Linked DNA regions of Homo sapiens: region 1 is linked to region 2. Evidence: fine-mapped expression QTL. A gene starts in region 2. The other region holds a variant in brackets. All regions are shown on one strand. Distances are between the middles of the regions.

What was found. PIP is the estimated chance that this variant, and not a neighbour inherited with it, causes the effect.
Region 1: its variant is the best candidate, but not a certain one, in a credible set for the expression of EBP in cerebellar hemisphere (GTEx, PIP 0.83).

Annotation. Positions count from the first base shown.
Region 1 is chrX:48,752,618-48,758,141 of GRCh38, forward strand. No RefSeq gene overlaps it. Among named protein-coding and RNA genes, the nearest start is that of GLOD5, 6.4 kb to the right of the region's middle. The variant TTCTA/T (reference allele first, on the strand shown) is at 2,314.
Region 2 is chrX:48,519,736-48,524,735 of GRCh38, forward strand. EBP (EBP cholestenol delta-isomerase) reads left to right here and starts at 2,073. Exons shown (of 5, transcript NM_006579.3): 1 at 2,073-2,172; 2 at 3,964-4,337. The coding sequence starts at 4,037. PORCN (porcupine O-acyltransferase) reads left to right here. Exons shown (of 15, transcript NM_203475.3): 15 at 640-1,073. The coding sequence ends at 741. RefSeq lists silencers at 914-973, 1,888-2,117, 2,178-2,357.

The DNA.
Region 1 (5,524 bases), 230 kb after region 2:
TTTTAGCTCAAGTTCCATTTGGGAGAACTGGTCGCATGGCCCCACCCAGGGGCAAGGGACAGTGGGAAGTGGAACTTCTGGCTGGACAGCTATTTTGCAACAGCTCAACGTGCGTGACTTTTGGGAGCAGCTAAACATCACTGTGACACCCTGTCAGATGGGTATCATCCCCGTATTACTGATCAGGAATCTGACGGTCAATGCAGGCAACGGACTCACTCCAGGTCACTTAGCTAGATTCGTTATCATGATCACAAACTAGGTGTCCCCTCTTCCAGCTCCTGGCCTGATGCCACCTTGATCAGCCAGCTCACTGCTTTGAATTTTAGGAAGAGTCTCAGGCCTCCTCATCCAGAGGGTGCTTTACTTTATAAAGCAGTTTTAACCTGAGAACTTCACCTCATCCTCAAAATGTCCTGGTGAGGGAAGCAGGAAGCCAGTGATCCCCATTTAACAGATTAAAAAAAAAAAAAAAGCAACTGAGTACAATCAGTTCTGAAGAGCAGTGAAAAGCCCAAGGTCCCAGGCACTGCAGACCTTCCCAGCAATAGATTCCAGATGTTTCTCTTCCTCCGGTATCCTCAATGTCCATGAAAAGAGGCAGGCTGTGGGTCTTCCACATTGATGAAAAGTGAAGCCCACATTCTAGAACCCATGTGTCATGTGCACTGCTTAGGTGATATTCAAACTTTCCCCCCTTTCGTCAGTGACTCCTGAATGTGCACCTCCAGCATCATTCCTTCCCCAATGTGTGTGACCCCAGGGGCACCCTCTCCTCATTCTGTGTGACAGCACAGCTGTCCACCCCATAGTCTGTCTGACCCCAGGAGTGTCCACTTACCAGTCTGTATGACATGAGTGTTCACACTCTTGTGATGACAGAGGTGTCCCCACCGCAGGGTGTGTGACTCTAGGAGTGTCCAAACCCCTATCTGTGTGACTACAGTTGTGTCCACATGCCAGTATGTGTGGCCCCAGGAGTGCCTACCTCCAAAGTTGTGTGACACCAGCAGTATACAGCCAGTCTGTGTGACCCCAGGAAGGTCTACAACTCAGTGTGTGTGAGTGTTCAAACCCCCATGTGAGTGACCCACGGGAGTGCTGACCCCCCATGTGTAGTACCCCATGACAGTCTGCTGCCCTTCCTATGTGATCCCAGGAAGCACACTGCCCAGGGTGTGTTACTCCATTTACAAGACCCCAGCGATGTTCACACCTGATCTGTGTGAGCCCAGGATAATTCACATTCCAGTCTGTGTAACCCGAGGGCCGCCCCACACTGCAGCTGCTGTGACCTCAGCAGTATCTACTCCCAAATCTGCATACCGAGGAGTGTCCATGACTATCCTGGGTGACCACGGCAGCATCCACAACTCAGTCTGTGACCCCAGGGGTGCCAATTCATCATTTTTTTTTGGACCACAGGAATATCCACTTCCCTAAAACTGAGATTGCAGGAATGTTCCTAACACAGCCTACGTGACCACAGGACTGTCCCCCCCTTAGTCACTGTGGCCCCAGGAGTGTCCACACCCCAGTCTGTGTAACACTAGGAGTACCTGGTCCACAATGTGTGATTTCAGGGGTGCCTGCCGCCCAGTGTGTTTAATATTAGGAGTGTCCCAAACCCCCTGTGTGACCCTGGAAGTGTCCACTCTCCAGTATGGGTGGCCCTTGGAGTGTTCACACCTCTGTCTATATGACCCCAAGTCTGTCCACAGTCCAGTCTGAGTGACTCTAGCGATGTCGAAACCCCCATCTTTGTGACCGGCCAGCACTCTAGGTGACCTCACAATTGCCCACACCTCAGGCTGTATGAGCCCAGGAGTGGCCACATTCCAGTCCGAGAGGCCCCAAGAGGCTCTACATTCCAATCTGTGTGAACCCAGGGACGTGCACACCCCAGACTATCTGACCTTTAGGATGTCCACATCCTCGTGTATGTGACCCTAAGAATGTCCACTAGCCAGTCTGGATGACTCAGGAGTGTCTGCTTCCCGGTCTACGTGGGAAATGTCCACATACAAATCTATGTGACCCTGGGAATGTCCACACTCCAATCATTGGGACCCCAAGACTGCCCACCCCTCAGTTTGTTTGACAACAAGAGTGTTGACACCCTAGTCAATCTGACCCCAGAAGTGCCTGCATCCCCCTCTGTGTGACCCCGAAAGTGTGCATTCTCCAGTGTGTGTGATTCCTGGAGTGTCCGCTCTGCAGTGTGTGTGAGACTCCTGGAATGTCTGGAACCCCATCTGAGTAACCCACAGCTGTCCACATGCCAGTGTGTGCTGCCTCAGGTGGCATTCACAC[TTCTA/T]TCTGTGTGACCCCAGGAGTGCTCACACCCCACTCTGTGACTCCAGGATTATCCACACCCCTGTCTTTATGACTGCAAGGTTGTCTACACAACAGTCGTGTGATCGATCCCAGGAGTATACACACAACAATTGCACAACAGCAGGTTCCAAGACAGTACTAAGTTCCTCACCACCGCCACTCCTGCACACCCTCTGTGGTGCGACCTGTGAGGGGCTGTTCATGCCTCAATTCAATGGATCATTTTGTCCCAAGCTCCCTCCAACACCATTAAGTGGTCTCTTCTATTCCTATTGCCCCTCTGTCTCTCCAGTGGACCATTCAATTTCCATCCCCCACTTCCCAACCACATGTACACACACAGGTGCCCACCTGCATACACATATATGTGCATGCACATCCCCAAATAGACCATCCCAGCATCAGACCCTGCACAGCTTGTAGGGAGCAAAGATCAAGGAAGCCAACCCCCTGCTGCAGGCCCCACCCCATAGAGAGTAGTGGGGAGGAAATCAGGAAATGCATTCCTGATGAGAGTAAAACCTTCTAGGACCTTGTGAAGCATCTACAGAAATCAATATTGGACACTCTCCCCACTACCCCCAGCTCCATGTGGGCAGGGACATTTGTCTGCCTTATTTTCTGTTGTCTGGCCAGCACTTAGAACAGTGCTGGGCACACAGTACACACACATTAGGTGTTTGTTGAATGAATGAAACTTGATCCAGCAATTCCACTTCTTTTTTTTTTTTTTAGTTTTTTTTAGTTTTTTTTAGTTTTTGCCCTGTTGTCCAGGCTGGAGTACAATGGTGCGATCTCAGCTCGCTGCAACCACCACCTCCTAGGTTCAAGCAATTCTCTTGCCTCAGCCTCCTGAGTAGCTGGGATTACAGGTGCCTGCCACCACACCCGGCTTATTTTTGTATTTTCAGTAGAGACGAGGTTTCACCATGTTGGCCAGGCTGGTCTTGAACTCTTGACCTCAGGTGATACGCCTGCCTCAGCCTCCCAAAGTGCTGGAATCACAGGCATGAGCCACTGCGCCTGACCTGAGCAATTCCACTTCTAACTCTAACACTCACACATGTGCACAAAGCTGTGTGCACAAGGCTGGTGGGAGCAGATCAGAAAAACCTTGTAAATGTCCATTTATAAAGAATGACTGTTGCAGAGTGAAATGAATGATGGAGGTTCATGTCGCTCCACAGAGCACTTGCTGGACATGATACAGAATGAAGGGGACCTGCTGCATTTCTGGAGGGATTGCAGAGGACTTCAAGGAAGCAGGGATGGTGATTCCTACCACATCCCCATTCAACTCTCCTATTTGGCCTATGCAGAAGACAGATGGATCTTGCAGAATGACAGTGGATTAGCCAGGTGATGACTTAAGCTTAACGTAAGCTTAACTAGGTGGTAATTCCAACTGCAGCGGCTGTACCAGAGGTGGTTGCATTGCTTGAGCAAATTAACACATCCCTTGGTACCTGGTGTGCAGTTATTTGATCTGGCAAAGGCCTTTTTTCTCCATCCCTGTCCATAAGGCTACCAGAAGCACTTTGAACTGGCAAGGCCAGCTGTACTCTGTCACCATCCTGCCTCAGTGGTATATCAATCAACTCTCCAGCCCTATGTCACAATTTAGTCCACAAGGACTTTGATTGCCTTTCCCTTCCACAGGTATCACAGTGGCCCATGACATTGATGATATTATGCTGAGTAGACATAGTGAGCAAGAAGTAGCAACTACTCTAGACTTATTGGTGAGAAATTTCTGTGTCAGAGGGTAGGAAATAAATTCAACAAAAATTCAGGGATCTTCTACCTCAGTGAAATTTCTAGGAGTCCAGTGGTGTGAGGTCTGTCAACATATTCTTTTTTTTTTTTTTTTTTTTTTTGAGATGGAGTCTCGCTCTGTCACCCAGGCTGGAGTGCAATGATGCAATCTCGGCTCACTGCAAACTCCACCTCCCTGTTCAAGCGATTCTCCTGCCTCAGCCTCCTGAGTAGCTGGGATTACAGGCACACGCCACCATGCCCAGCTAATTTTTGTATTTTTAGTAGAGATGGGGTTTCACCACGTTGGTCAGGTTGGTCTCAAACTCCTGACCTCATGATCCGTCCGCCTCAGCCTCCCAAAGTGCTGGGATTACAGGCGTGAGCCACTGCACCCAGCCAATATATTCCTTCTAAGATGAAGGATAAGTAGTTGCATCTGGCCCCTCCTACAATCAAAAAAGAGGCACAATGCCTGGCACACCTATTTGGATTTTGGAAGCAACACATTCCTCATTTGGGTATGTTACACATGCCCGTTTACCAAATGACCTGAAAAGCTGCAAGTTTTGTGTGGGGCCCAGAACAGGAGAAGGCTCTGCAACATGTCCAGGCTGCTGTGCAAGCTACTTTGCCACTTGGGCCATAGGACCCAGGAGATCCAGTGGTGCTTGAAGTGACAGTGGCAGATAGGGATACTGTTTGGAGCTCTTGGCAGGCCGCTATAAGTTAGTCATAGCCTAGCCCTCTAGGATTTTGTTTTATTTTATTTTTTGAGACAGGGTCTTGCTCTGTCACCCAGGCTGGAGTGCAGTGGCACAACACAGCTCACTGCAGCCTTGACCTTTCAGGCTCAGGTGATCCTCCCACTTCAGCCTCCCTAGTAGCTGGGACTGACTGCAGGTGTGCACCACCACATCTGGCTAACTTTTGTATTTTTTGTAGAGATAGGGTTTCCCAATGTTCCCGAGGCTGGTCTCGAACTCTTGGGCTCAGGCAATCCACACGTCTCAGCCCCCCAAATGAAATTTGGTGAGCCTCCTTTAGGATTTTGGAGCAAAGCCCTGCTATTCTCTGCAGATAACTACCCTCCTTTTGAGAAACAGCTCTTGGCTGGGTGTGGTGGATCACTCCTTTAATCCCAGCACTTTGGGAGGTTGAGGCCAACACATCTCTCTCTTGAGCACAGGAGTTCGAGACCACCCTGGGCAACATGGCAAAAATCCATCTCTACAAAAAAATACAAAAATTATTAATAGCTGGGTGGGGTGGTGCATGCCTGTAGTCCCACCTACTCAGGAAGCTGAGGTGGGAAGATCGCTTGAGCCCAGGAGGTCGAGGCTGTAGTGAGCTGTAATTGTGCCACTGCAGTGCAGCCTGGGTGACAAAGTGAGACCCTGTCTCAAAAAAAAAAAAAAAAAAGAGAGAGAGA
Region 2 (5,000 bases):
CTGTAATCCCAGCACTTTGGGACGCCCAGGCAGGCAGATCACTTGAGGTCAGGAGTTCGAGACCAGCCTGACCAACATGGTGAAACCCCATCTCTACTAAAAGTACAAAAATTAGCTGGGCATGGTGGTGCAGCATCTGTAATCCCAGCTACTCAGGAGGCTGAGGCAGGAGAATCTCTTGAACCTGGGAGGTAGAGGTTGCAGTGAGCTCAGATCGTGCCACTGCACTCAAGCCTGGGTGACAGAATGAGAGCCTGTCTCAAAAAGAAAATAAATAAAATGAGGAAGATTATTAATGAGGCTGAGCATCTTTTCATATGTTTAAGAGCCATTTGTTTTTCCTTTACTGGAATGACCTATTCACCTTCTCTGGCAATTTTTCTTTCCAAAAAATTAATTTTTAGGAGCTCTTTATATATTAGGGAGATAACAGGTCAGAGAATGGGATCACTTTGTTTTTAAAATGATTTTTAAAGAAGAAGACAAAAACTATATCTGGTCACCTTTCATATGTACCTAGGCCCTTCTGCGGGGCCTCGCCTAGAGCAGTCACAGAAATGTCCTTGGGCAAAGGATGGGTTTTCCTAAGAACTTCTTTGTCCTTGCTAAGTGGGACCATCACCTCTTTCTCTCCCACAGGGCTACGGCATGGCATACACTGTCCACAAGTGGTCAGAGCTCAGCTGGGCCAGTCACTGGGTCACTTTTGGATGCTGGATCTTCTACCGTCTCATAGGCTGAGGCACATCTGTGGACCCTCATAACCCTCTTAAGACCCCTCTCAGGGTGCCACTGATGGGGGATGAGGGAAGGCCCTCTCTCTACTCCTTGACCCCCTCCATCCTTGACCCCCAACACCTCAACACACACACACACACACACACACAAAATCACACCATTTTCATGCCTGTCAATCCCCACCCCACCACAAGGCAGGAAGGGGGTGGTGCCTGCTGGGGCCTAGAGGGGGATGCTTGGGGAAACAGAGAAGGGGAGATCCAGGGCCTCCCCGCCTTCCTTCTTCCTTTTTATATACAATTTGTTATTGTCAAATAAAAGTAGGAAATATTCAATAGGCTTCTTCTTCACTGCTCAGAGGGGAATAGGAATGAGTGAGGAAGGGAGCACAGCATGGATAAAGGTTTGGAAGCTGGAAACCATGAAGAGAGAGCAGACTGTGATTGGTTCATGGTTAGTTTATGATTGATTAGATGATGAGCCTGAAGATGGCAGGATCCTGGTCCTGCTTGGTTTGATCAGGGCAGGGACAGATTGCATAGTTGGATGTGGGGGAGGCCTGATTGGCTGGAAAACTGAAGGATCCCCATTCTGATTGGTTGCTCTGAGTGGGACACAGAGGAGAGAAAGCAAGAGAGATGAAGGGTTGGTGCCTATTTATCCTTAGGACTGAGGGTTGTGGGTTCTAATTGGATGGGAGGTCTGGGATGGGTCTGGATTCTGATTGATTGCTCCATCTGGGGGCCCACTGGTGGTTAGGCGTTTGATTGGCTTTTTAGAACTGGCATATGGAGATTGAGGGTCTTCATGCCAATTGGTCAGTAGGACTGAGAGGCCTGGGTTCTAACTAGTTCTTCTGACTTGAGGTCGGGAGAAGAGAGAATGACCGCTGCTATTAGGACTGAGGAGTTCTGAGCACTGAAGAGCTGGGGAGGGGGTGGTTGCAGTGTATAGCGTGTGATCTGCTTGTAACAGTTTCGTTGCATTATACTAAGGGTTACTCTACCTAGAAAAGGGCGGAGGTGAAAGGATGCAACGCAACGCTAATTTCACCAGCGGAAGAAGCGGGTACAGACCTTAATGAGTCCCCGTTTTGATCGACTGATAAGGGAATGGGGAAATTGAAGCCAGGACTCGATGCAGATTGGCTACGGATCCAAAACGCCCACTAACCTTGGCGCGTCCCAGTCTCCACCCCAAACCTAACTCAGGTGAAAATGGCGCCACGCGCGGGGGCGGGGCTAGAGGTACAAAGAGAGTGTCTATTGGTTGGGAGCGGCACGGGCCGCCTTCTTCGCTTCACCATTGGCTCGCTCCGTAAGGCAAGAGAACCCACTAGGGGATGAGCCCGAACTAGGGATGTGACAGAGCGCGAGACCCAGCCTAAAGAGAGCCCGGAGCCAGCGTGGGAGGCCGCTGCCGTCGCGCGCCTTGGTGAGTGCCCTCCACCCGGCCCCTGCTCCCTCCCCCAGCTCTCCCCGGCTACGCGGCCAGCCCTCGGCGTGCCAGCGCGAGACCCTTTGCCACCCGCCCCCCCCACCGCCCTTTTGCGCCTGCGCGAGACCCCCAGCTACCGCACGGTTGTCCAGAGGACAGAAGATCCGTCTTCTCATTGGGCAGCGGGACTGGAGGGTTCTGGTTCGGATTGACCGGCTTTGTGTTCCGTTCTAGCGCTGCACGCCAGACACCGGCCTTTCAATATCCGTCTCTTCCCTGCAGGTTGACGGCGTTGCACGCTCTCGCGGGGAGGCTCTGGCTTTCCAAACGCTGGCACCGAGGGTTGTAGTTCTGATTCGTTTTCTTTCCTCTGTCCCCCAGTTGCAGTTTTCAGGACTACGTGGGGGAGGGAATAGCTTTTTGTTGAACGGTTTAAGACGCTGACCTGTGCAACTGGACCACGCCTGGTTCCTGTGTCTCTTACCAAACCGTGACCCCGGAGCACAGGACTGGGTTTGGTGGTCGTGAGCAGTTTGTGACCCTTGAAGGAAGACACCAGGCCTGGTCCTGTATCTCCCTCGCCAGACTGTGACCAGGGAGGGCTGGGATCAGGTGTTGTTCCCATGTGCCTCCCACCAGACTTTGACCCCCGAGGGCTGAGACCGGGACTGTTTCTACCACATCATAATATGGCTTCTAAAGGGCTGGAACAAGCTTTCAGCCTTTCTGTGGCCTTGTGTTTCAGTCATGTTCTTTTTCTTTTCTTTTTTATTTTATTTTGAGACAGAGTCTCGCTCTGTTGCCCAGGCTGGAGTGCAGTGGCATGACCCCGGCTCACTGCAGCCTCTGCCTCCCAGGTTCAAGCGATTCTCCTGCCTCAGCCTCCTGAGTAGCTGTAACTACAGGCGCACGCCACCACACCTGGCTAATTTTTGTATTTTTAGTAGAGACGGGGTTTTGCCATGTTGGCCGGGCTGGTCTTGAACTCCTGAGCTCAAGTGGTCCACTCGTCTTGGCCTCCCAAAGTGCTGGGATTACAGGCGTGAGCCACCGCGCCCGGCCTTCTTTTTTAGAGGCAGAGTCTCAGACTGGAGGGCAGTGATGTGGTCACTGCTCACTTCAGCCTTGAAGTCCTGGGCTCAAAGCGATCCTCCTGCCTCAGCCTACCTACTAGCTGGGACTACAGGCCTTTGTCACCACACCTGACTGATTTTCTTATTTTTTTAGAGACAGTTTCGCTGTGTTGCCCAGGCCGGACTTGAATTCCTGGCCTCAGGTGCTGCTCCTGCATCAGCCTCCCAAAGCACTGGAATTACCTGCCACGGTGCCTGGCCTTTAGTCATGGTCTTAAAACAGAATGTAGGCCGGGCGCAGTGGCTCACGCCTGTAATCCCAGCACTTTGGGAGGCTGAGGCGGGCGGATCGTGAGGTCAGGAGATCAAGACCATCCTGGCTAACACGGTGAAACCCCGTCTCTACTAAAAATACAAAAAATTAGCTGGGCGTGGTGGCAGGCACCTGTAGTCCCAGCTACTCGGGAGGCTGAGGCAGGAGAATCGTTTGAACCCGGAAGGCAGAGGTTGCAGTGAGCCGAGGTCGCACCACTCCACTCCAGCCTGGGTGACAGAGCAAGACTCCGTCTGAAAAAAAAAAAAAAAAACGGAATGTAATTAGAAGTGTTACAATCCTGTCTGTTAACTGGTAAATTCGGTCCATTTACATTTCTCATGATAATAAACTATTTGAATTTGATTTTATTATCTCATTCTGTACTTTCTATTTGTCCAGGTTTTTCTGTTCCTTTTTTTTTTTTTTTTTTAACTTCCTGCCTATACACACGCAGCCATCAGCCCACAAAGACATGACTACCAACGCGGGCCCCTTGCACCCATACTGGCCTCAGCACCTAAGACTGGACAACTTTGTACCTAATGACCGCCCCACCTGGCATATACTGGCTGGCCTCTTCTCTGTCACAGGGGTCTTAGTCGTGACCACATGGCTGTTGTCAGGTCGTGCTGCGGTTGTCCCATTGGGGACTTGGCGGCGACTGTCCCTGTGCTGGTTTGCAGTGTGTGGGTTCATTCACCTGGTGATCGAGGGCTGGTTCGTTCTCTACTACGAAGACCTGCTTGGAGACCAAGCCTTCTTATCTCAACTCTGTGAGTCCTGATTTCTTTCATATGCTGTGGGATGGGATTTGCTGGGCAGGGATCGGCTTGCATGTTTACCTATCCACCTATTCTTCTTCCATTGATTTATTTTAAATTTTTATTTAATCTTTTAAAAAATTTATTATAGGCCGGGCACAGTGGCTCACGCTTGTAATCCCAGCACTTTGGGAGGCCGAGGCAGGTGGATCACTTGAGGTCAGGAATTTGAGACCAGCCTGGTCAACATGGCAAAACCCCATCTCTACTAAAAATACAAAAATTAGCCAGGCGCGGTGGCTCAAGCCTGTAATCCCAGCACTTTGGGAGGCCGAGGCAGGCAGATCACGAGGTCGGGAGTTGAAGACCAGCCAGGCCAAGATGATGAAACCCCATCTCTACTAAAAATACAAAAATTAGCCGGGTGTGGTGGCACACGCCTGTAATCCCAGCTACTAGGGAGGCTGAGGCAGGAGAATTGCTTGAACCTGGGAGGCGGAGGTTGCAGTGAGCCAAGACCATGCCATTGCACTCCAGCCTGGGCAACAGAGTGAGACTTTGTCTCAAAAAAAAAATTATTATGTATTGTTATTATTATTCTTTTTGTTTTTTGCCCTTCTCTAAAACTGGTAGATAACTTATTTTTGAGACAAGGTCTTGCTCTGTTGCCCAGGC